2 linked regions of the Homo sapiens genome follow. The protein of the gene in region 2 interacts with the protein of the main gene of each other region in a pairwise test. Each region holds a gene or a part of one and is shown on either strand. Other genes may lie near its edges.

Region 1 (3,753 bases), on a different chromosome or scaffold from region 2:
GCCAGCCAAAGAAAGAGAGAAGATAGAGAAAAAAAAAATAACAAAAACAAAAAACCAACCATCCAGGCCGGGTGCGGTGGCTCAGCCGGTAATCCCAGCACTTTGAGAGGCCCAGGCAGGCGGATCACCTGAGGTCAGGAGTTTGAGACCAGCCTGGCCAACATGGTGAAATCCTGTCTCTACTCAAAATACAAAAATTAGCCGGGTGTGGTGGTGCACGCCTGTGATCCCAGCTACTTGGGAGGCTGAGGCACAAGAATCGCTTGAACCCTGGAGGCCGAGGTTGCAGTGACCCAAGATCACACCACTGCACTCCAGCTTGGGCGACAGCAAGAACCTGTCTCAAAAACAAACAAGCAAGCAAACAAATCAGCCACCTCCTACCCTGACTGCTGGGAGTCCAGCCTCCCTGGGCCAGCCACCAGCAGGAGGTAGGGAGGCTGGGAGACAGATGAGTAGAGCGGACAGTGACAGGACACCTGCTCCCGCCAGGCCCTGGGCTAAGCTCCCCTCTTAAGTGATTCCACCTAGTCTTCCCAGCCATTCTCTGGGGTAGGTGCTACCATGATCATCGCCCCATTTTATAGATGAGGTGATTTGAGGCTCAGAGAGAGGTGTCATAGAGTGATATGCAGAAAAGGGATTTGAACCCAGGTTGACTCCAGAGTCCATTCTTTTTTTTTTTTTTTTTTGAGACGGAGTCTCGCTCTGTCGCCCAGGCCGGACTGCGGACTGCAGTGGCGCAATCTCGGCTCACTGCAAGCTCCGCTTCCCGGGTTCACGCCATTCTCCTGCCTCAGCCTCCCGAGTAGCTGGGACTACAGGCGCCCGCCACTGCGCCCGGCTAATTTTTTGTATTTTTAGTAGAGACGGGGTTTCACCTTGTTAGCCAGGATGGTCTCGATCTCCTGACCTCATGATCCACCCGCCTCGGCCTCCCAAAGTGCTGGGATTACAGGCGTGAGCCACCGCGCCCGGCCTCTTTTGTTTTATAGAGATGGGAGCCTCGCTATATTGCCCAGGCTGGTCTCAAACTCCTGGCCTCAAATGATCCTCCCGCCTTGGCCTTCTAAAGTGCTGGGATTACCGGTGTGAGCCACTGCTCCTGGCCAGAGTCCATGGCCTTTTTTTTTTTTTGAGATAGAGGCTCACTCCATCACCCAGGCTGGAGTGCAATGGCGTAATCTCAGTTTCCTGCAATTTCTACCTCCCAGTGCAAGCAATTCTCCTGCCTCAGCCTCCCGAGGAGCTGGAATTATAGGCATATGCCACCATGCCTGGCTAATTTTTGTATTTTTAGTAGAGACAAGGTTTCACCACATTGGCCAGGCTGGTCTCAAACTCCTGGCCTCAAGGGATCCGTGTACCTCGGCCTCCCAGAGTGCTGGGATTACAGGTGTGAGCCACCACACCAGGCCAGAGTCCATGCTCCTAACCATTCCTTGGGCAAGGGCTGTGGGCCTGGGGTGTGAGTGACAAATCTTCCTTATAAGGAACGTGGGAATTGCAGAAACGTGGCTTTTCCAGTCTACTGAGTAAAAAGGAACAGAAAGTAGCCCAGCCTTCATGCCCACAAGGCTCACAGGAGTCACAGCAGTGCCCCTGCAAGAGTTTGTTTTTGGTTGTTTTGAGGAAGGGTCTCACTGTGTTGCCCAGGTTGGAGTGTAGTGGTGCGATCATGGCTCACTGCAACCTCCGCCTCCCAGGTTCAAGGGATCCTCATGCCTCAACCTCATGTGTAGCTGGGACCAAGGCGCCGGCCACCATGCCTGGCTAATTTTTGGATTATTTTGTAGAGATGGGGTCTCACTTTGTTGCCCAGGCTGGTCTTGCCCTCCTGGGATCAAGCAATCCTCCCACCTCAGCCTCCCAAAGTGCTGGGATTACAGGCATGCCTCTGTGCCTGGCTTCCACTGTTTAAAAGTTAAAATCATATTTATTTGCAAACTTTGGATCTCAGTTTCCCTACTTGTTTTCTTTTCTTTTTTTTTTTTTTTAAGACGGAGTCTCGCTCTGTCACCCAGGCTGGAGTGCAGTGGCACAATCTCGACTCACTGCAACCTCCACCTCCCAGGTTCAAGTGATTCTCCAGCCTCAGCCTCCTGAGTACCTGGGACTACAGGCGTGTGCCACCACGTCCAGCTAATTTTTGTATTTTTTAGTAGAGACGGGGTTTCGCCATGTTGGCCAGACTGGTCTTGAACTCCTAACCTCAGGTGATCCGCCCGCCTTGGCCTCCCAAAGTGCTGGGATTACAGGCATGAGCCACCGCAGCTGGCCCTCAGTTTCCCTACTTGTAAATGAGTGTGTGAGCTGGTACTACACAGAGTGCTGGGATTTCAGGCGTGAGCCACCATGCCAGGCCTGTGTATGGTTCTTTTTTTTGTTTTTTTTTGAGACTGAGTTTTGCTCTTGTTGCCCAGGCTGAAGTGCAATGGCGCGATCATGGCTCACTGCAACCTCTGCCTCCCGGGTTCAAGCGATTCTCCTGCCTCAGCCTTCCTGAGTAGCTGGGATTACAGGCATGCGCCACCACGCGTGGCTAATTTTGTATTTTTAGTAGAGACGGGGTTTCTCCATGTTGGTCAGGCTGGTCTCGAACTCCCGACCTCAGGTAAGCCACCTGCCTCAGCCTCCCAAAGAACTAGTATTACAGGCGTGAGCCACCGTGCCTGGCCAGGCCTGTGTAAGATTCTAATCGAGGATGCTCTACGCGTGTTCCTGCCTCAGAGCTTTTGCACGTGCTGTTTCCTCTAGTCTAGCAGGAGTGCCCTTCTCCCAGATGTCTGTCAGGCCTACTCTATTCCCATCTCTACTTGAATTTCACCTTCTCAGAGAAGCCCTCCCTGATTACCCTGTCTGTATAGCCCCCTTCCATGACTCACCATCCTCTGAATATGACTTATTTATCCTCTTAGTTCTCACCACCTCCTGGTATACAGTCTGTTTTGGGACTTCTTTGTGGTCTGTTTCCTCCAACTACATAGAATGTCAGCTCCAGGTCGGGTGTGGTGGCTCACGCCTGTAATCCCAGCACTTTGGGTGGCCAAGGCGGGCAGATCACCTGAGGTCGGGAGTTCGAGACCAGCCTGACCAACATGGAGAAACCCCATCTCTACTAAAAATACAAAATTAGCCAGGCATGGTGGCGCATGCCTGTAATCTCGGCTACTCGGGAGGATGAGGCAGGAGAATTGCTTGAACCTGGGAGGCGGAGGTTGCGGTGAGCCGAGATTGCGCCATTTCACTCTAGCCTGGGCAATAAGAGCAAAACTCAGTCTCAAACAAACAAACAAACAAGCAAACAAAAAAAGAATGTCGGTTCCATAAGGGAAGGGGATTTTGTCTTTTTCTCTACATTATTCCCTGCACCTACCACAGCGTCTGCCTTGGATGAGGTTCTCAATATATATTTGCTAAACGAGTGAATGAAGTGGTAACAAGTTTCTGAAAAAATAAGTTGGCCATCTCTGCTCTGGTCCTATGGGGCCATCTCACAGATGGAAACACTGAGGTTTGATTCAAGGTTTGAGAACAAGGGTCCCATGTGATTGTGTCACCTTCCTGCTTAGGAGATTTTCATGCCTCCTGAATGCCCTCAAGAGCAAGTCCAGGCCGGGCGTGGTGGCTCAGGCCTGTAATCCCAGCACTTTGGGAGGCCGAGGTGGGTGGATCACCTGAGGTCGGGAGTTCCAGACCAGCCTGGTCAACATGGTGAAATCCCATCTCTACTAAAAATACAAAAATTACCTG
Region 2 (2,729 bases):
TATTTGACCTCAGGTGAGTCATTTAATTTCAGCCTTATGCCATTTTACATTTTCTGTGGAGGGTTAGGTTAATTGGCATATAAAGCCACTGAGAAGAGTTGGCAAAGCTCTCAGTCACGGGGATTTGATCTTTTTTGGTGTGTGTGTGTCTTGGGTGGTAAAGTGGTAATTTTGTAATTCTAGCTGGTCTTAGTTCCTCAGTTCTGCTCCCTTTAGTCATGGTTCTTTCTAGTGGCTGTATTGAGGCCCCATGGGTGTTATCCCTCCATTGGTTCTAGTTTGGAACAGAAAAATCTGTTGTATTCATGGCTTTCACCTGGCTAATACTGAGCTAAGTTACCACCAGGTTGCAAACTCCAGGACATTATTGTCCTGAGCTGCCTATTCCCTTGCTGGTGCGTTGTGGAACCCTGTATTATTAGTTCCAGTCCTGGAGGCCTGCCTCCTGAGTTTCCCAGCTAGTTGGGACAGGCCCCAATATCCCTTCTTCCTGTAACCCAAACAGTCATGAATTTGCTTTGGCAGGTGGATGGAGACTTGGGAACTTCCACCTCACCCACTAAGCCAGGCCCAGGCTATGGGGCATTGTGGCTAACCCCACCAGGTGGATACTTGGTCTGAGGACGCATCTTATTCTGGGCCTTTAGGGAGCTAAGGCAGTGAGAATTGGCAGGAGGACTGCTGTGAATGCCTTGTAGGTCGGGGGATTGGAGGGGGTCCTCTGCTCCCTGTCTCTCAGGATGGCAATGTACCTCTCACCCCCAGTGTCAGCTGAGGTAGGATCCATAATCAGTAATATTCCTGCAACAAAATGTTCCTAAGTGGAATCAATGAAGACCAAAATTTATTTGTATAACAACTCTAAACCTGCTCTGCTCTGCTGTGTTTACAATGTGCTTTGTGATCATCCAGCCCAGGGAGTCCCAGTCTCTGGCTGTCTATCTGCTCTAAGGAAGAGAGCCCACAGTTCTCTATAGTGCCATAGTCTGTGATGAATAAAGTTCCAGATTTGAGGTCAACCCCCGACCACCCTTAAAGTGCTTGTTGGTCTCCTACTTTGGTTTGTCTTCAGCATCCAACTGATGCACATTTGTCAAGAACCCACTGAGGCTAGAAACCCCCCAAACACTCAAGGTACCTTGAGAACATGTATCCCAAGACCTGCAAAGACCAAACACATGGCCTGTAACTACTTTTCACTTTCAAGCCCTGGAACTTGTCTGTACCAAAAATCTTTCTGAACCATTCACCAAATCTCTTGTCAAGGGCCAGAATAAATTAAGAGATTGGCTTTTGGTTTTCAATTAGGCTTTCAAGTCCTAAGCCCAACCCCTCCTATCCCACCTAGGCAGAAATCACTTCAGATCCTTGCTTCCTAGTTTAATTTCTTCTCTGCCTCAGTTATAACATCCATAAAATGGAAATAATAATACCCACCTCACACAGGGGTTAGGAGTGTTTTTTTGTTGGTTTTTTTCCAGACAGGGTCTCACTCTGTCTCCCAGGCTGGAGTGCAGTGGCACAATCTCGGCTCACTGTACCCTCCGCCTCCCAGGTTCAAGCAGTTCTCATGCCTCAGCCTCCCAAGTAGCTGGGATTACAGGTGCCTGCCACCACGCCCGGCTAATTTTTGTATTAATAGAGACAGGGTTTCACCGTGTTGGGCAGGCTGGTCCTGAACTCCTGACCTCAAGTGATCCACCCGCCTCGGCCTCCCAAAGTGCTGGGATTACAGGCGTGAGCCACCACACCTGGCCTAGGAGTTAAGAGTATTAAATGTTAAGAACAGACCAAGTCCATCAAACAGCTCCACACCCTTGTTCCATGTTCTGGATTGGGGAGTTGTGGGGGTGGAGGTGTAGAACTTTTAAAAAGCTTCTTAAAATAAGTTGCTGTGAATACTTCAGGTATATAAAAAAACATTGGTTGACAATAAGCCAGTGTTCTGCCATTCTTACCTGCTTATCAAGACAAAACCTGCTCAAGTCCCTGCCCAGCTGCATTCCAAGTGTTTTCAAGTTTGGTGGTAAGACCTGACCTGAGGCTTCTTATAACCTTTACTCAGTGGGAATATGCATACAGTTCACTACAGAAATATTTGTATTTACTTAGAGGAAGTGCCCTGGATCTGGGGGCGGGGGGGGGCGGGGGGAATGGGTCTTTTCTAAATTGTTAAAAGCAGTTCATGCCATTATTCTTAATAAACATTTCTAATATGCTGTGAAAGAGTATATTCGTTTTTTTAATGCATATATCCATTTACTCATTGTTCCCATGAAAGAGCCTTGTATGCAAACCTCCAAATGCCGAAGGAGCCAAGAAACAAGGCAGACAAAAATTGTTAGTAAAGGGTTCTTTACTGGGGGGACTTAGAAGCATGACGTGGGGACGGGCGCAGTGGCTCACACCTGTCATCCCAACACTTTGGGAAGCCGAGGTGGGTGGATCACCTGATGTCAGGAGTTTGAGACCAGCCTGGCCAACATGATGAAACCCCGTCTCTACTAAATACAAAAATTAATCGAGTGTAGTGGCGCACACCAAGTAATCCCAGCTTCTTGGGAGGCTGAGGCACAAGAATGGCTTGAACCCGGGAGGTGGAGATTGCAGTGAGCCCAGATCGTGCCACTGCACTCCAGCCTGAGCGACAGAGCACAACTGTCTCAAAAATAAGCATGGCCTTGGGTGGCAGCAAGATAACCATGCTGTTGCTCTTCAACCCACGGCTT

What was found.
Region 1: the proteins of RBM3 (region 2) and MYPOP interact in binary tests that used the Homo sapiens proteins (3 or more experiments, as listed by UniProt).

Annotation. Positions count from the first base shown.
Region 1 is NC_000019.10:45,895,945-45,899,697, forward strand, and holds part of MYPOP (myb-related transcription factor, partner of profilin), read right to left. Parts: intron 1-3,753. UniProt on the Homo sapiens protein: Transcriptional repressor; DNA-binding protein that specifically recognizes the core sequence 5'-YAAC[GT]G-3'. Dimerization with PFN1 reduces its DNA-binding capacity.
Region 2 is NC_000023.11:48,578,937-48,581,665, forward strand, and holds the end of RBM3 (RNA-binding protein 3), read left to right. Parts: 3' UTR 1-2,226; downstream 2,227-2,729. UniProt on the Homo sapiens protein: Cold-inducible mRNA binding protein that enhances global protein synthesis at both physiological and mild hypothermic temperatures. Reduces the relative abundance of microRNAs, when overexpressed.